Regions from separate parts of the Homo sapiens genome. Here region 1 is linked to region 2. Evidence: fine-mapped expression QTL. Tissue or cell type: whole blood. Region 2 holds a variant in brackets; the other region holds the start of a gene. All regions are shown on one strand. Distances are from middle to middle.

Region 1 (9,642 bases), 44 kb before region 2:
GTGGTCATGGCCTCTGCAGGCCAACACCAGCCACCAGTTTCTCCTCAAAGGGTCATGACACAGGTGCCCTAAGGGCCAGGGGGCAATGCTTCTAAAAGACTTGAAATTGGACTCTGAAAGGACGGCTTCCCTTAGACCTACAGTAACCCCCATTAAGAGACTCGTCATTAAAAACAAGAGGATTATTCCGTATAATGAAGACTTACGCATAAATGTGTTCATTGAAGCACTTTAAGTGCATAACTGGAAACAATCCCAATATCCAAACAATAGGGGACTGGGTTGGTAAATTACATTATGCTCATACAGTAGAAGACTGGCTTTATATCCATGTTCAAACTGACATTTTGAATATTACACAAAGAAAATATTACATGAAGAAAAACAAACTAAATGACAATATGCCCTAGGGTGAAAACTACGTTATAGACCAACACTGTCTCCCACCCCACAGTGACTGCTGTGTGTGACCCACCCCCTACCATCAGGAGCAGGAGAGTTGGTGGCTGATGGCTCTCCATGGAGTCTCCCTCCAGGGATCACCCATGGTTGAAGGGAGCTGCTTTGTCCCAGGTCACACCTGTCCCTGGGGCAGCCCACCTCCAGTGTCAAGGCACTGATGGGGAGCTCACTGAAGGGGCATCCCGGCTCCAGAGTTCCCCAAAGAGTAGGCTGTGGCCTTTGCTGTGACTATTCACAGCCCGCCTTCTCTTTCCACAGGTGCTGGCCCCAAGGGTGCTCTGTGATAAGCTGGCTCACAATAATCTCCATTGCTTTCTGCCAGCCAGAAAACCAACCTAATACACACCCTGGACCCAAGTATAGAAAGAAGACTAGAAGACATTGCCCTAAAATACTAACATTTGTCTTGGAGCGGTAAGACTAAGCCTGCCATTTTAATTCATCTGTTGACTTTTTTTAGGCTTCTGTTTTCTTAAATAAGTATGTATTCTTTTATAATAAAAATATATGCAAACAGAAGAAAATACGAGGACATTTTTTCTCTCAAAGATTAATTCCATGAGGTTCACAAGAGAAAAAAGAAACTTAAGATCAGAAAACACAGAACATATAAAATATATACCTCCCTTCTCTTACGGCACACTAAATGAATTTAACAGGTAGAAAGAAGTGAAATGGGAAGGTCAAAATAAAAGAAGAAAGGGAGAAGGGCACTGAGTGAAACTAACACAGAGGCAGAGAGAAAGCCTGAGAGGGTCAAGGAAGGATAGACCTTAAGAAAGTGACCCTGAGAAGACCCCCATGCAAATGAGACAGAAACTCAGATCAAGCAGGAAGAAATCTGAGAAGTAGAGTGGACCTTGGACTGCTGTGTAACCCTGGATTGGTTGCTGAACCTCTCTGGGCCTCTGCTCTTTATCTACGAGATGAGGCATCTGGAGACTACGAGGGTTTGGCCTGGGGGTACCTGGTGGGTCTCTGGTTCCAGTGGCCTGGCCAGGAATACTTCCACCTCTCCCTTTTCCACTGCCCACCTTTCCCATCAGCCCCAGCACATCTTTGGTGTCCTGAATTCCTTGTTCCAGGTACTCAATGGCTTTCTTCGCAGTGTGGGGCTTGTCTGAGGTCAGGTCCACCCAGCCTCTGAGCACATAGGCCTGGGATGAGAACAAGATGAAAGATGAAGTCCTTGGTCCTGCACAGAATCAACTCAGCCTGCACATGATCCACACTTTGCCACCCAAAACCCTGAGGCCCTGCCAGGCACAGTCCCGTGCAGATCCCAGGGCAGCCAGCTCTCTCTCATGGCCAGGACTCCCATTGTTGCTTTGTCTGGAAATGCCCTGGACAGCGCCCCTCCCACTCCCAACCAAACCCCTTCACCTAATGTCCATTACCACTACTTACAACTCAGCCTCAGAGGCCCCTGCTTAGGAGGCCTCCCTCCCTGTACCCCTACAGCTCTCCATGACCCTTACTGAGGCACACTCACCTATCCTGTCATTGCCTGTTTACACTGGGGTCAGGAGCCAACATGGGGGCCTACGCAAGGCCACTCTTGATGTCTCCACTCCTTAGGCCAGCACGAGGCCTGGCCCTGCATAGGAAGCCAAGGAATGCCCTCTGAGTGGGTGAGCAGGAGCCGTTCTGAGCTCGTGGACCTCGCTGGTTCCATGTTAGCCTTCACCCAGCCTCTCCAGGCAGATGGGGAGGGCCAGGCCTGGGAAGCAGACTTGGAAGAGCCCTGCCCTAAAGCACCCCTCTTGATGGCCTAGATCAGTATTTCTCTATTATAGTTCTATTTCTCTTTTTCTATTATCTATCCTAAGGAGTCTCTTTAGATACTGTTTTCTAATCAATCCCTCCCCTTCCAAGAAATGTTAGTGCCTCAGATATACCGTATCTGTGTATTGTGTACTGTATATATATCTGTGTTTTATACATAAAGAGTAAGATTTTTTTCACCCTCTCCCCCAGGGACCATGTCTACACCCTTGAAAATTGGTATCAGCCCTGCTGAGAAGGCATGGCCTAGACTGAGGCTTCAAATTCCATATTAGTGCAGATATACAGTATATGGGCTGCACTGCATGAGCCACCATTCAGTTCCAGCAGAGCATTACAGGGAGGGAATGGCCCAGTGTGGCCAGCTCATCTGGGTCTTCAAAAGAACCAGTAAGTCTGGACCAGCCTGGGCAACATGGCAAGACCCAGTCTCTACAAAAAATGTAAAAACTAGCTGGGCATGCTGGCACACACCTATGGTCCCAGCTACTTGGGGGGCTGAGGTGGAAGGATTGCTTGTGCCTAGGAGGTTGAGGCTGCAGTGAGGTCTCAAAAAAAAATTTCTTAAGAATATGGTGCAAGCCATAGAAAATCTATCTAAAGATCAGACTCTGTGTACAAATGCCAATGTGTAACCTCTGCTAAGCCCAGAGACAACACGCGTGGGGCAACTGTGAGACCCGGTGTTTTGCCAGTGCCTGGGTGTGGCTCTCCCCCAGTTTCAGGGCCCTTTGTGGGAATGAGGGCCACCCTGCTATTATGTGTTTGGATGCTGCTTTCTTCGCCTGTTGTCCCCATGGTGTGGTAAGTACCTCTCTGAAGCCTCTAGAAATCTTCAGCATGCGGTCAATGTACTCTTTGGCCTTGTCATGGCGGCCTATGAGCCAGAGGAAAAGGCCAGCATAGTACAGTGCAGTCCCACTGACTGTCTTGCGTATTTCCTTCAGGCTGTACTCAAGCTCCTGAATTGCTTCTCGGTCTGTAAATCCAAGAGCGAAGGAAGAGGGAGAGTTAGGATGTGGAAGTCTGCCTGGTTCTGCATGGGCCACCGAGGGCCCAGGGAACTACCTCGGGGTCTCCCCCAGACACTGTGGATCTCCTTCAACATATGCAGCACACCGCATGCAGCCCAAGGCCTGGAAACCAGCAGTACCTGCCCTTGAGATGCTGCAGGGGCTGCCCTGGTGTGGACTCACGTGTGCTGTCTGAGATTACCTTCTCTTCTCTGTGCCCAGCAGTGTGCTGAGCAGGCAGGCCAAACCAAAATCCTTAGCCTCAGGCCCACAACTTATTGTGAGTAGGGAAATAGTAGTCTGTAGTCTCTCTTGGACCCTCTCCCTGACTCTAGAAATGTGGAGATTAGGGGTAGAATTATATATATTGGCTTGGTTTTTCTGACAAGATCTTGGCAAAGAAGAAGGGTGTTTCCCCAACTCTTGGGATCTGGAGCATGGGCCCCTCCCACTGTCATGGGCTCTGCCTGCTTCCACTCAGTTGGGCCCAGGCATGGAGTCTTCTCCCAGGCCTCCAGGGGGAGAGGAGCAGCAGCCACTTCTCACTGGTTAACAGCATCTGCACAGCCACCAGGGCACATACCTCCTTTGGCAGCCCTTGAGGGGCTGTGTTATCTCTGGGGCAGGGCTTTCCTTCCCCTGGTGGGTCAGGCCTGGTTGAGCATGGTGGCACTCACCAATGATTTCACATCTTTTGTGAGCATAAATGAGGGCCATGGTGGAGCACAGGGACACGTCTGGGTGATGCCTGATGCTTTCCAGGTCACTGATGGCATCCTGGATGTGCTCTGCAAAGACAGTCCACATAGTTATACTCTCAAGCTCCAGGACTAGAGGACATGAGACTCTGTAGCTGACCCAACAGCTCAGCACTACTACCTGCTGGACTAACTGGTCTGAAAGGTCCCCAGTGACCCAAGTTCCCTGAAGATTGGGGCTCTTTGAAAGAGTTGCTGGTAACATGGTCCAGGCTGTTAGGGGCTGGAAATCTTGGACTTGAAAGGTTCACCCTGTGAGTACTTGTGGGGATATGTGTGAGGCTGCAATTATTAGCTGCGTCAGTTCTGAAGAAGGACCTCAGGCAGGGCATTCTCAGCTACTGCTCAAGAGCCACTGATTACATTTATCCCTCCATGTCCTCAGACATTTGGCCATGGGCTATTCTGCCAGTCCTCAGCCTAGGACCACCTTCTGAATGTCAGCCCATCTGCACCTGCATGGGTCTCACTCCTCTCCCTGTACCTGTACCATACCCACCTGTCCTCACACCTACCTCTTCCCCCTCCTTTGCCTGCATTACCAGTTCTCAGCTTCCAGGCCTGGAATTACTTCAAGAATCATGCAGCTATCTCTCCAACCACTCATTTTACAGAGAGGGAACCCGAGGTGCAGAGCAGGGATAGTCAGCGCTCTGAGGTCTCAAAAGTCAACTAGATATGGATTACGTAGGCCTCTGTGGATTCCCGTGGGAATCCAGCCGCTGAGTGTGAAACTGTTTTTATGGGACCATAACTAGGATACAAGAAGGCATCCAGGTGGAGCCAGAGTGTTAGGGCCCAGCTAGTGCCTGGGGTCACAAGACCAACACTGCCAAGTCCTTACCTTCTTTGAGGACTCCATAGGCTTTAAAGAACTTCAACACAGGGTCATTGCTGAATTTTTCCAGGCCCACAGCTGCAGCCTGCTGCACATGGTGGAAGTACTTTTCCTGGCTATAGTAAATGATCCCAGCCTGTATGAAGGAAGACATAACTGCAATAGCCCAGTCCCTTCTCTGTCTCTGTTCTGTCCCAGATGGGATGAGACCTGCTCCCTTCCCTATCCCCTGCTCCTCCTCAGTTCTGCAAAGGGAAGAGAAAGAGGAAACATTCAGGCCTCATCCTGTCCTCTAACAGCCCTGGGAGCAGCTCCATGCAGTTTTCCCAGGAAAGAGTTTGGAGGTGTTTGTTTGGGGGATTACCAACAGATTCTGGTTCAACTATGATGGGGAATTCAACCAAGGCTTTGTCTTAGGAAGGGAATAAGGGGGGAAAAATGAGGACAAATAATAAGAAAAATTATACGAATTGTAGTTACAAGTTATTGTGGGCTTCATATCCACTATCCTGTGCATGGTCCTCTCAGTATCTTTCACAGCTAAGGAAGCTTAAGCCCATGGAAACTACAGCTTGACAAAGGGGCTGAGATTTTAAAGTTAAGTTTCACTTCCTCTAAGGTTTGTGGGTGCTAGGTTGGGAGCAGATGTGGTTGGACTGTAAACATCCTCATGGGCCATATGAAAGAGCCCAGACACCATCCTAAGGGTAACAGAAAGCAGAATGGTTTTAAGGCGAGGGATGTTTTCAGATGTACATTTTTGCAACAACCACTCTGGCTGCTTTTGCATGTGGGGGGTGTGTGCCGTGGTGGCAGCAGGGACTACTGATGCTGAAAAGAGCCACAGCAGAGAAACCAGATGGGAGGGAGGCTGTTGCAGGCTCTCAGGGGGGAGAGATGGTGCTGGTTCTGGGCTAGAAGATAAAAAGATAAAAAGAAAACCCAGGAGACATCAAGGAGCTGGCATTTCTTGTAGACAGGATTAGAAGATGAGTATAGGGAAGAGGTATGAGTTAAGGCTAGGAGATTAAATGGTGAAGCCATCAACTGGGGTGGGAGGCGCAGGCGAGAGTGAGCTGGGTGGAAGAAGGGATGATGACAAGAAGGGATAATGATAGTGATTGGATGAGCTGGTTTGGGGTAGCTCAAGAAACGGGGATGCTAATTTGGGGCTCAGGGTGCGCAGAAGCCACCGGAGAAGACGCCCTTGCCAGGGGGAGTGGGGCAAGAAAAGGCAGGACCGCCTGATATAACTGAGGACAGCGAAGGGTGGCAGGAGAGTAGCAGGGCAGACGGTCTCTGGGTCAGGGGCGGGGAGTCACGAGGGAGCCCTCGGACAGCGCCCGGGCCACGCACCATAAGGGAGGAGTCATTGCTGCTCATCTCGGGCCGCTCGCGGCTCCGAGTCCGGGTCTGGTGGGGCGGTGCAGAGCGGGATTCCCGAGGCAGGGTCGTGGGCACTCTATCGCGGCGGGCGGTTGAAGGCGTTACAGTCCTTGGAAACCGAGCTGCTAGCCGGTTGCTAGGAGCGTCCAGTGTCTGGAGTGGGAGGAACAAAACGCCTCACGTCACAAGGCGCAGGAATCGAGCGCCGAGAGAGCGAGTCGGTGCTACTGGCGTCGGGTCGGTCCGGGTAGGCGCAGCGGGACTGGACCTGGGTGCCGAGCGGAGCCGCTGCCATGGGCCTGGGCGTCAGCGCTGAGCAGCCCGCAGGCGGCGCCGAGGGCTTCCACCTCCACGGGGTGAGTTGCCGCCGCGGCGCCGGTGACCTTGGCGAGGCGCCCGCAACCCCGCGCCCGGGCGTCCGGTCGCCGGCTGGCTGGCGACTGCGGCGGGGTCCCGGCCCGAGTGTTTCCGCCTGGGTGGCGGGAGGTGCCCCCTGCCCGGTGGGAGCCTCCTGGGAGAGGCGGCCTCGCGGGACTCCCGGACCCTGGCTAGTCCGCGGCCGCGGTCGGGCCCAGCGCCCGCCCCAAGTGCCAGCAGTGCCGGAAGCGGAGCGTTTTCCTGGTCCGGCCGCCGGGAATGGCGCTCCTCCCGGGTGAAGAATGCACCACTACCAGTCGGGACGCACTCGTGCACTTAGCACACATTTACGCTCGCCTGCCGCGGGCCGCTCTCCGTGCTGGGCCTGGGAAGAGAGTCAGCCACGCCGAGGACAGTCCCGGGGGCCGGGGTTAACCGAGTGGACGCAGCTGCGGGGGAGCCCGTCGGCGCGCGTCCTGCCAGTCGTAGGGTCGTAAGGGCTTCCGAGGGTAGAGGACCGGTGCAAACCAGCCACGGGATAGTGGGGAGCGGGAGGGCCGGGAGAGTGCTGCAGAATCCTCGAGGAGAGCGTTTGCAGCTGGGGAGGGTCCCAGCCTTTAGATGCCGCTACATGGAGGTCTGGGCGAGCAGGCTTCCGGAGAGTGGAGACGGAGTGGGGTTCCTAGAACGGAGTGTGCTGTGAGGGTGAGGAGAGGGTCCCGCAGCCGGATGGAGATTTGTGCCTGCGGTGAGGGAAGGGCTATAATGTAGGTGAGAGGGGCTGGGGGTCTCTGACCCCGGAGCGCTGCGGGGAAGAGGCGTCCCTGCACCCCCCCTTTCCCTAGTGAAAGGCAGCTGGATGCAGAGATGAGTGGAGACAGGCAAGCTTGTCGGTTTGTGTGTTTTGAAGGTAGGGTCTGTTGCCAGCTAACCACATGAGAGGGCTAAAAGTTTCTTAACGTGAAAACCAGGCTGGCTTGGAGAACCCAGAGTTGACAGGATTTGTGCTTGGGAATGGGCTTTCTTATGGTGAGACACCAAACAGCAAGCGTGGACAGTGGAATGCATCCAGCCAGGAGCGTCTTCCAACAGGTTTGATTAAAGGCAAAGGAACTCAGGATATTGGCAAGAGGAGGGGTGGGGCGATGATGGGAGCTTCGAAGACGGGAGGGGCCTGCCTGATGGAGAGGGACAAATTGGAGAGGGACCAGGGATCAGAGGTTGTCAGTCACAAAAACAAAGTTTTGAGCTCCTACTCTGGCAGGCAGAATTCTAAGGCTCTAGAGATAAAGCAGTGAACAGAACAAACATGGTCCCTGTTCTGGAGCTGACATTTGGATGATGGTAGGGAAAGAAGGGAAATGAAAAAATACATGGTAGGTGGTAATTACCAGTGATAAAAATAAAGCAGGTTAAGGGGATACAGAATGGTGAGTGGGTGCTATTTTTGATAGAGTGGTCAGGAAGGGCCTCTTCTCAAGTCACATTCGAACAGATGCTTCTGAAGGAAGTAAAGAGTGGACAATACAGATATTTAGGGGAATAGTAGTATTCCAGGCAGAAGGACCAGCTTGTGCAGAGGCCCCGAGGTAGGTTGTGCTTGTGTGTTTGAGGAAATGCCAGGTGAGGCTGGTGTGCTTGGATGGTGTGGCCAGTGTGAGGAGGAGACCAGAGCAGACCGTGTAGGACCTTGCCTGTTGTCCTGAAGATTTAAGATTTTATTCTGAGATGTAAAACCATCAGGAGGTTTTAAATGGAGGAGTGACATGACCTACTTACCTTTAACAACACTGAAGAACAGCTGTGCTGCATTCTAGAAATATTGGCACCTCGCTGCGTGCCCAATACTTTGGAGAAGTCGCTGCCCTCAGCGAGCTTAGAGTAGTGGCAGATTCACCAGGAAACAGCTGTTAGGAGAGGGCAGTGGTTAGGGGGAGGGCTCTGGGTTGGATTTCCTGGGGTCAAATTACTGAATTATTGAGTACTTGGTCTCATTTGTCATTTGAGGTTATTAAAAAGGTTAAATGACACATAAAGCAGGTGAGGTGGTGCCATGCCCTGGCACTCAGCCAACCAGCCCTTAGTAAGTGTAAGTTGTGATCACTGTGAGTTCCATTAGGTTCCCTGATTGGGAAAAATAGGGTGGGAGCATGAGGAAAAGCAGCACTATAGGGCCTTGGGGCAGGCTGTGATGGGAGCCCCTGAGGGAGCTGGATGGCAGGCAGTGGTTTCTGCAGGGGGAGCCGTACAGTGGGCAGCAGCATAGATTATTTCAGCTGCGGAGCCATAGTGAGTAGTGATGAGGCCCCAGGTGAGAGAAGTGGAGTGTAGCCAAGCAGAGGACAAAGCCACAGGAGAGGGTGGTGGAGGTATTGGGTGGGTCAAGGAGGCCAGGCCTGGGGCCTGACCCTCTGGACCTCATTCATGATGGAGAGCAGCTGACATGCAATACTGGGGAGTGGGGAGGGAAGTAGGCAGGCACCTGACGTGGAGTGATTTGGAGGTGGCCCTGATTAGGGAGGGGCATTGTCCCCAAGCTATTCCTGAATAACTGTCCTGTCCTGTGGTTTTCGAAAGATCCCCTCACCTGAAGGGTTAGAGGGCAGGGCCCAGAGCTCCCCTGCAGCGGGGCCTGGGAGCAGCTTGCCTACTGGGCCAGGCCAACTAGGCCCAGATCTGATTTCTGGGCCGCACTCACTCCCTTTGGAAGCCATGGCAGCTTCTGGAGGTGATAAGGAGGGGCTCAGTTGGTGATGCTGCCAGAAGGGAATCCTAATTCCAGGGGCAAACTGGCCTTGATCTCAGCGGTTTGTTCTCAGCCTAGTCTTCATGAGCTCTCCTTCAGGTTGGGGAATCCAAACCTGGAGGGGCTGGTATGTAGCAGGAGCCACAGGGCCTTTCCCATGAGGAGGCAGCAAGAGCCTAGGTCCTGTGCCCTCTGGGCTGGGTCTGGCTGGTGTCTACGCCAACAGGTTATCAAATGCCCGCAGCCAAAGACCTGAGGGTGTGGGCCCATCTTCGGGTCTAGGGCCTTGGGACAAAG
Region 2 (10,425 bases):
ATGTACCCTAAAACTTAAAGTATTAAAAAAAAAAAAAAAAAAAGATCCTTCACATCTCCAAATACCTCCACAGGTATCTTTAAATCTTTCTTCTCCTGGTTCTGAAAAATGATTTCCTTCCTTAGACTAGTTTCCAAACCTTCTGTTCATTTCTGGAGGCGACGGCTTCTCTGATTGATGTCTAAAGCAATTTCTTAGACGTGAAATTTTAGCAATTTCATGTCTAAAGTCTTAACTTCCACAGGAAAAGAAACTGATGGTGTTTCTCACCTCATCATCTTTCTACCTGCCCTTTTCTAACCCTATCACAATCAATTCCAGTTATCTCTGACTTATCACTGCATTCTGGAAAAAAAATGGCTGAGTCAAGGGTACATGGTAGACATATGTCATACCCATAAAATGATGCTCAGTTTTTGTTTTTTATTATCTACATTGATGAAAAAGTATTTTCCATTGCTACAGAACAGAATTGTGATTTATAATTCACAAATTACGTGGCCAACAGAGCTAATGTATAACATTACCAAAATGTTTTTCTTTGAAATGTTCACTCTGAGCATTATGTTAGAAAACTAAATTTATCAACTATATCTACATAGTCAACTGACAAAATGTGCCCCTAAGTCAGACCCACTGTGAGCAAATTTTCCACTTAATACACTGGCAAAAAGCATTTGATATCAAAGCTTCCTTTTGCTTTACACAGGTAATGTTTTTAGTTATTTTAGCCCCTATGCACCATAAATGCATATACTCATCTGCATCAGAATTATTCTAAGGAAATTCTTTGTTTTGTTAAAAGTGATGCAAATAGAATAGTTTTTAAATGTAGCTTATATGTGCAATTTAGTATTTTAAAATTTTTTAATTAGACAATTTATAATAAGTGTGGCTTTCGGTTCAAATCAACCTATGCAATAGTATACAAAGTGCGGAAATTTCTAACAAGGTTATTAGGTAAACACCCAAATGAAACTGCATACTTGCGTGCCATCTCTGTTTAATAGCAATGCCTTCACATTATCCGTGTGCCCTTTAAGCTTCATTAGTTTTGCACATGTTCTTGGATCCCATACCCGTAACACCTGTGAATTTTAATAGAGTATTACACAAACTAAATATATCAGTATCAAATTTAAATAACAGACAACTCTCATAAGTCAAATGATAACCATTATATTCTGAGAAGGCAATACCACTTCTGCCAATGGACACTGTCTAAGCCTCCCAACCTCAGGGAATTAGGCCTTTCAAACATCAAAAATGCACAGCCTCTTTATCTTGTCACTATACACACAACAGTTATAGTTATACTCTTACTTATTCAAATAAAACCTTTTGTTTAGCACCCACTAGGCAAAACCACTGTCCATATATTTAATAATTACACAGATTAAATTATTTTGGTTTCTTTATTTTCTAATGTTCAAACCACCCTTTAAGCTCCCCCGATTGGGGCACAGTGGCTCTCATGCCTGTAATCTCAGCACTCTGGGAGGCCAAGGCAGGTGAATTGCTTGCACTAAGGAGTTGGAGGGACAACATGGCGAAACCCTGTCTCTATTAAAAATATACAAAAATTAGCCAGATGGGACAAGGAGTGGCCTGATGCACGTGATGGTGTGTGCCTGGGGTCCCAGCTACTCAGGAGATTGAGGTGGAAGGATCGCTACAGCCTCAGCAGTCAAGGCTGCAGTGAGCCAGGATCATGATGCCACTGCACCCCAACCTGGGTGACAGAGTGAGACCCAGTCTCTAAATAAATAAATATAAAGAAGCTAATCGTAAAATACCTGCTTAAAAAATAGGAGACAAGGTATGTGAAAAATAATTTTTTTTTTTAAATAAAGAAATAAGCTCCTCCTTACCTTTTCAGTGGACCCTGATACAATGATTGTTCCCAGTTGATTCATGGCCAGGCTATAAATGGAATCTTTGTTTCCACTTAAAGAAGAAGCTATTGAGGATAAACGGAGCTAAATGTTAACAAGATCATCAGCTGTTTAGTAACTAGTCAGCAAAAACTGCAAGTTTATTCAATTTAGAAAATCTTATCTTTATAAGTCCTCTACGGAAAAGAAATCTACCTATAATGGAGATAAATCTAAACAGTATTATTATCAAAATTTACATATTTTCTGGATTTGAATATATACAAATGCTCAATATCTGATAAACTGCAGTGCCATTGAAAAGCTATCCGCTTAAATGATATGTTTAAAGCTATTCATGTGCCATAAATATGAAAAAATGTTCAATTTCAGTATTTTTCAAACACAAATCAAACCAAAAACACTGTTTCATACACCAAGACAAAAAACAAGGTAATACTTGATTGTAAAAAGAAAACAGTACAATGGAACTCTCATATATTACTTATGTGAAGATAAATAGGTACAACCTTTCAGGAAGGAATTCAGACTATAGCAAAAATCATGTTCATACTCTCAGTATCACTGAAGTAAAAAAGATGTATATGAAACTGTCTATATAGTATGAACCCAATTTTACAAACATATTAAAAAGTTGAGTAAATGAGTTACTACATGTACTGTTTAGAAAAATGTCTACTTGTAGCAAGTACTCAATACAGGTTAGCCATTATTAGTATTATTTTTATTATTATGTATTAAAAAAAAGTGTGATATCCTCTCTAAACAACTCTAAGCAAGATGTAGCAGAATCTGTATCCACTAAGCCTGGGCCCTGACCTTGTGACAACCTGCTTTTTTTTTTTTGCTTTGTTCCCTCCCATTAGTGTCTCTTTGAGGCAGGCCTTACATCCAGACTTAAAACCTAATGATGTACCATGACAGCCCCAACAGGGACCAGCTAATGAATCAGAGATAATGTACAGGTGAAAAATCAAGAACAAGGGAAAAAGAATGTTGAGACCTTCACATATTTCCTGGAAAACAAGGCAAAACAACAATCAAGAGATTATAAACACAAGTCTCCCAACTTACCCTTCTTGGCACATACTAGGCTATATTAGTAAAACTGTATTGTCTATGTCAATGTGAACACTCCACAGAGTCGTTATAAAATGGACCTATAATGTAGGGATCCAGAGAATGCAGGCCCATGTCTTCAATGTAGACTTTCCAGGTCAGGCCTAGCCAAAAATGTGCTCCTAACAGTCCCTTCTGAAACCTGGCCTAGAGGACTCTACTAGGTTGGGCCAAGCATGAAGCTCAATTTCAAATCTAGACTTGTATGAGCCTGACTTGGTAGTCTGAGATCTCTTAGCTGATGAATCATCCATGCTGTGAACATCTCTGGATTGCCTCTAGAAGCACTCTACCGTTCTGGCTCTTCTGGAATTGGCTTGATTCCTCAGGGCTGCTCTAAAAGGCAGAAAATTTGATAAACTGGCACTGGAAACCTTTTCTTTCTTTCTCCTGGGTATTTTTCATCTTGGCTATTAACTCAAAAGCTCTTAACACTTTAAAAAGTCAGAAAACCGCCTACTTTGTCAGAAAATCGCCACCTCCTTCAATAATACCTGCTGAGTGTATGGATTTGGACCAGGGAATGCTGTGGGAGATACGAAGTAGTAAGACAGTCTCCTCTACCCTGCAGGGACTTACATTTTAGCTAGGGAGCTAAGACATGCACACGTACAAAAAATAACCAGGTTATACCTGGAGAAGTTACCATTTTTAGACTGCAGTGAGGAACTAGCTCTTTGTTGTTCAATCATACTCTTGGGGGCCAGAACGCTGTAGGTAGAAGCACTCTCAAAATATGAAACACTCTCTCGATGCAAACCTATCAAAAATGTTTTATAAACCATTCTTTATTTATGTTAACTTGGATCACTTTCAAAGAAGTTTCTTTTAAACACCTTACTTGTGACAGTGTTATTTGAGGCAGTCAATGCTGTTAGAGTATTCACATCCCAAAGGAATATTTGTCTGTCCAACCCAGCTGATGCTACTAGTTCTTTATCCTTGGCATATGCTAAGGCCTTTACGTAATCCTGTAATAGAACAGACATACTATGATCTATTCTGTAGATCAGTAATAAAATGAGCCACACAAAGTACTGAGATCCCAATATTACACTAAAGACACTGAGAACTGTATTGTTTTACCTTATGTGTCCTTAATGTTGACATGCAAAATCCCTTGTGTGCATTCCATACTTTTACTGTCGTGTCAGAAGAAGCAGATATTACTAGAAGAAGCAAAGAATTAACAAACTCCTTAGTAGTATGACTTAAAACTTTGAAAACTTATCTTACAACAATGTAACATTATTTCAAACTAACATATTCTCTCTCTTACACACACAAACATACCTAAAAGCTCTTTCTAGAACCTATTGTATATTGCCTCAATTTTTTAAAATCTCAAGACACATGTTCAAAGAAAAAAATATATTTTTAAAACAAGCAGTGCAAACATTTTTAATGTTCCAGTTGAAGGCTCAACTAATGTGATTGAGAAAAATTCCTGTAACTCGGACTGCAAAACCAAGGAATGGATCTCACCAAAATTAGAACAAAAAGAGGTATTAATAAGGCTAAAAGAAGAATACATATAGTACGAGTCTATATACAGTTCAAATGAAGGCAAAACTACCCTTTGGTGTTCAGAAGACAGAAGAGCAGTTACCTTGGGGCAAGAGGGAATAACTGAAAGGGTGGCAAAGGGTGGCACAAGAGGGCTTCTAGTAATATTGTTTCTTGATTTGGGTATTCACTTTCTAAAATTGTGTTGAACTGCAATCTCGAAGTGTGTGTACTTTTCTGTATGTATGTTTCAATAAAAAAGCTTATATAAAAAACAAAAAATATATCAGAAGCCCAATAATAATCCAAAGAAATACTTACATGTTTTCCCATTACAACAGAGTACAATGTCGTTTACCCAATCAGTATGGTGTTCCATAGATGCTATATATGGATCTTGCTGAAATTAAAAGAAAAATCCTAAGAGTTTATATGAGAGAATGAAATATATTACAAATGATAGATATGGTTAAATTCTTCAATTAATGTGACATACTGCTCTAGGCATTAAAACTAACACCTGAATTCTGAGTAGAATCTCACCAAATAGGTGATGCTTCCAGATAACAGATGTAAACAGTTTTGTTTCAGGACAGTTTTACTCTTACTGAAAGCTTAGGTTTCCAGGACAAATACTTCATTTTTTTTTTTTTTGCCTTGTTAAAGTGAAGGCAACAAGCTCTGGACTAGGCACTGTGTGTGACATAAAACCCTTTAAAAAGGGTTCACTAGAAAGGACATGACTTGTAGGAATCTGTAGGCTGTGGGGATTTGAATGAGTGGTGGTGAAGGCTCAACAGCAGACAGCAGGGGCAGCAATGAGTCTGATGAGTGCACTAAGGAGCCTGGTCTGAATGCAGAGGGAGATAAACACTTCTGCTTTCAGCTTCCTACTGTTGGGTTCACCCTCTGAATTAAATGTTTTCCTCATGGTACCTACAGGCCTTCAGAGATGAAAGGAAACCCAACGGCTGAGAAAGGACAACCTGTGTCACCATTTCAATTAGGTGATTCGAGATTCTACTTCTCTTACCTGGCTTAATAACCAGGAGAGGCCTTTTAAAGAACAGTATTTAGTTACATCCTACACCTAAAACAGGCAAGTTTGAGACACTTTATGGGCAAACAGAACAGCTCTGTACAAGTCTGTTTGACAAATAATGCTATTCAATCTTGTCATAAAAGGAAGACCAGAAAAAAGATGTTTGGGGCAAGACAGGCAGATTTCCAGATTCTTCAGGTTAGTTCTTTTGGGTGTTTTTCTTAATTTGTTTGAAATACTGTGAATGCTCAGAAAGGAGACATTCCAATTCAATTATAAGTACCAAAAAGCATTTCAAAGCCAAACATAGTTTTCTTACTTTTCATGCTTTTGACATTTGGCCACCACTGCATGGTCCATTGGCTAAAGAATTCAAAGCCTGCCAGACTGAAGTTATAGGCGCATAAAGTAGTGGTTCTTTTTCTGAACTGAATATCAGACTTGTAAAACTTGCTAAAAAGACACAAACTTTTAAAAATACAAGGTCTAGCACTAGGGTTTTCAAGTTGGGCTGGGTACTAATTCTCTGTCACTTCCTAGCCACATAACCATGGGTTTCTCTGAGCCCATTTTCTCATCTATGAAAATGGATCTGGCCAGGCGCGGTGGCTCACGCCTGTAATACCAGCACTTTGGGAGGCCAAGGCAGTTGGATTATCTGAGTCTAGAAGTTTGAGACCAGCCTGACCCACATGGTGAAACCCCGTCTCTACTAAAATTATAAAAATTAGCTGGATGTGGTGG[C/T]GTGTGCCTGTAGTCCCAGCTGCTGAGGAGGCTGAGGCAGGAAAATTGATTGAAGCCAGGAGTCAAGAGGTTGCAGTGAGCCAAGATCGCGCCACTGCACTCCAGCCTGGGTGACAGAGCGAGACTCCATCTCAAAAAAAAAAAAAGAAAAAAAAGAAAATGGATCCTAATAGGTACCTTGAGGGACACTGAAAATTAAAATCACATTGGATATGAAAATGCAAAGAGCGTATGGCACATAATTAGAAGATCAATAAATGCTCTTTTTTTCTTCCCTGATTCTTCTTTTCTCTGTCATTCACAATATAGGTGTTCCAACAAAATACTAAAAGGGCTCGTTACCATTTGCCTGGGGATTTATCTTTACACATATTTAAACCCTGTTCCCTGCTTAAGAAAGGGAAATCTTTGAAGGGGAGCATGTTGTCTTCATAGTTTTAACACCAATTTTATATTATCTTTATTTATTTATTTGAGACAAGGTCTCCCTCTGTTGCCCAAGCTGGAATGCAGTGGTGTGATCACGGCTCACTCAGCCTCAACCTCCCATACTCAATCAAGTGATCCTCCCACCTCAGCTCCCCGAGTAGCTGGGACTACAGGTGTGTGCCACCATGCCCAGCTAATTTTTAAGTTTTTTTTTTTGCAGAGACAGGGTATTGTCACATTGCCCAGGCTGGTCTCGAACTCCTGGACTCAAGGAATCCTTTCACTTTGGCCTCCGAAATTGTTGGGATTGCAGGTGTGGGCCACCATGCTCAGCCTAACCTTGTATTACCTAGTTAGGCCGTGTGGGGTTTGTGAGGATCCTAATTACTTTTAAGTGAGGAAAATAAAATATTTTTTCAAGATTAATTAGAAATGTAAAAGAATATTCAATCTTTTTTTAGTAAGGTTACCAAGAGGTTGTTGGGGAACATATTTAAAGCAAAAAAATTAATTGTTGAAAGTAATCCCCCTACTAGCCAAATCACTTTGTTCCTTTGTGGCAAAGAACTCTGTAAGGCAAACCTAGTTTAGGGAGTCCTTGTCTTAGCTGAAACACTTCTGAAACTTTCCTAGGGATGGTTTTTCTCAGAGGCTTACAGAATTCTGGTTGCGATGTCTTTATAGAGTGTACCAAATAACTCAGCATTCAGAGAGATTAAATCTGAAACTGTGAAAAGTGTCATATTAGACAGTAAAAGCCATTTGTCCAGAATTTGCTGGGTACAGATTTTAATCCCTGCATTACCTTGTGCTGATTGACACTCCATATTCTTATGATAGAGTCTCGACCGGCTGTGAAAAGTCTATTTAGTGCTGGATCCAGCTGCAGAGCATTGACTCCATTTCGGTTGTACTTCTCCACTTCATCTCGAATAACATAGGAAACCTGACAAATGTGTCAACATATGCTTTTTATAAAGTACAAGCCATGCAGTAATAAAATATAGTCTACTAGTGGCCAATCTGAAACAGAAAATCCCATGTTTTCCAATATGTACTTTTTCAACCCAATACAAATTTAAATTTTACTCCTTAAAGACTAAAGGGCTGAAGAGAAGGATGGTATCAATGATAGCCTAGTCCAACATGAGTAAGTTGCTAAACTACTATAACTGCTTCCTGACTGGACTCCTTTCCCAGTCTTTAGTCCATTTTTCACAAAGCAGCTAGAGTAATTATTTAAAAATCTATCTCAGCTCTGCTCAAAAACCTCCAGTTGCTGACTACTAGACTCATGATTGGATGTAAATTCCTTAACATGGTCTCAAGTACCCTGTTTGTCTTTCTGGCCACTCATCTCTGCTCCAGGTTCTGGTGCATTGTGCCTCCAGACCATCACACATGCTGGTCCTCTCTGTTTGGAAGCTCTTCCTCCGACCTGTCTGGCTAACTCTTGTTGCAGCCTTCAGGTTTCCATTTAAACAATACTTCCTTTAGAAGGCCTTCCCTGACTTGCCAAGCAAAATGAGGTTTTGAGCTCCTATCACATACTAAACTTTTTCTTCAGGGCATTTTCCCCTACTTTGTTACTGTTGGTGACCTCTGTCTGTTCCTTGTGAAAACAGGGGATCAACTGAAAACAATTACACCTAAGAAAAAGTCAATAAGCTGGCTGGCAGCCAGAAGTAAAACTTTCTAATGTAATGAAATAAACAGTTAAAAATTAACTCAAGATGGACTAAAGACTTAAATGTTAAGACTTAAAACCATAAAAACCCTAGAAGAAAACCTAGGCAATACAATTCAGGACACAGGCATGGGCAAAGACTTCATGACTAAAACACCAAAAGCAATGGCAACAAAAGCCAAAATTGACAAATGAGATCTAATTAAACTAAAGAGCTTATGCACAGCAAAAGAAACTATCATCAGAGTGAACAGGCAACCTACAGAATGGGAGAAAATTTTTGCAATCTACCCATCTGACAAAGGGCTAATATACAGAATCTACAAAGAACTTAAACAAATGTACAACAACAACAACAACAAAAACAACCCCATCAAAAAGTGGGCAAAGGATATGAACAGACACTTCTCAAAAGAAGACATTTCTGCAGCAGACACAAGAAAAAATGCTCATCATCACTGGCCATCAGAGAAATGCAAATCAAAACCACAATGAGATACCATCTCATGCCAGTTAGAGTGGCAGTCATTAAAAAGTCAGGAAACAACAGATGCTGGAGAGGATGTGGAGAAATAGGAATGCTTTTACACTGTTGGTGGGAGTGTAAAGTAGTTCAACCACTGTGGAAGACAGTGTGGCGATTCCTCAAGAATCTACAACTAGAAATACCATTTGACCCGGCCATCCCATTACTGAGTATATACCCAAAGGATTATAAATCATTCTACTATAAAGAAACATGCCCACGTATGTTTATTGCAGCACTATTCACAATAGCAAAGACTTGGAACCAACCCAAATGTCCATCAATGATAGACTGAATTAAGAAAATGTGGCACATATACACCATGGAATACTATGCAGCCATAAAAAAGGATGAGTTCATGTCCTTTGCAGGGACATGGATGAAGCCAGAAACCATCATTCTCAGCAAACTATCACAAGGACAGAAAACCAAACACCACATGTTCTCACTCGTAAGTGGGAGCTGAACAATGAGAACACATGGACACAGGGCAGGGAACATCACACACTGGGGCATGTTGGGGGGTAGGGGGCTGGGGGAGGGATAGCATTAGGAGAAATACCTAATGTAAATAACAAGTTGATGGGTGCAACAAACCAACATGGCACATGTATACTTATGTAACAAACCTGCACGTTGTGCACATGTACCCTAGAACTTGAAGTATAATAATTAAAAAAAATTATCTCAAGTACCTATAGTGATTCTATTAGGAACAATTATACCCTTTCTCCACATCTTAAACCAAAAACGAATTTTTCTATGAATTAAAGACTGAAATTTAATAACCATAAAAATAATTTTTGTTTTTATTTTTTGAGAGAATCTTGCTCTGTCACCCAGGCTGGAAAGCAGTGGCCCGATCTTGGCTTACTACATCCTCTACCTCCCAGGTTCAAGCAATTCTCGTGCCTCAGCCTCCTGAGTAGCTGGGATTACAGGCATATGCCACTGTGCCCAGCTGATTTTTGCATTTTTAGTAGAGATGGTGGTTTCACCATGTTGGCCAGGCTGGGTTTCAAGTGGTCCACCCGCCTCAGCCTCCCAAAGTGCTGGGATTACAGGCGTGAGCCACTGCACCTGGCCAGCATAAAAATAATTTTTAAAAGACAGGTGAATATTTACATAGTCCCTTGCCAGAGAAAACTCTTCCAACATGCCAAGAAAGATGGTAATCTTTACGAAGGAAAAGAGCAATGGTGATCTGGCCAAATACAAGTCAAAACCTTTTCTATGTACAAGAATGTTCACAGCATTGTGGCATTCACAATAATGTTACAAAAGTGGAAACAACCCAAATATCCATCAATGGACAAAACAAATAAAATGTGATGTGTGTGTGTGCATATATATATATATATATGCACACACACACACTGTACTGACACATGCTATAACGTGGATGAACCTTGAAAATGTGCTAAGTGAAAGAAGCCACATATTTTACAAAAGGCCACATATTTTATGACTCTATTTA

What was found. PIP is the estimated chance that this variant, and not a neighbour inherited with it, causes the effect.
Region 1: it holds the start of GORASP1, and the variant in region 2 is fine-mapped to the expression of GORASP1 in whole blood (TOPMed, PIP above 0.99).

The regions. Positions count from the first base shown.
Region 1 is chr3:39,104,435-39,114,076 of GRCh38, reverse strand. It overlaps GORASP1 (golgi reassembly stacking protein 1), which reads left to right and starts at 6,450. Exons shown (of 9, transcript NM_031899.4): 1 at 6,450-6,598. The coding sequence starts at 6,536. It overlaps TTC21A (tetratricopeptide repeat domain 21A), which reads right to left and starts at 6,397. Exons shown (of 29, transcript NM_001366900.1): 1 at 6,213-6,397; 2 at 4,863-4,992; 3 at 3,938-4,048; 4 at 3,060-3,226; 5 at 1,497-1,619. The coding sequence starts at 6,239. RefSeq lists a silencer at 6,501-6,820.
Region 2 is chr3:39,060,306-39,070,730 of GRCh38, reverse strand. WDR48 (WD repeat domain 48) reads right to left here. Exons shown (of 19, transcript NM_020839.4): 2 at 7,541-7,681; 3 at 4,842-4,920; 4 at 4,101-4,183; 5 at 3,856-3,985; 6 at 1,872-1,960; 7 at 987-1,088. Among named protein-coding and RNA genes, the nearest start is that of WDR48, 14 kb to the right of the region's middle. The variant C/T (reference allele first, on the strand shown) is at 6,307.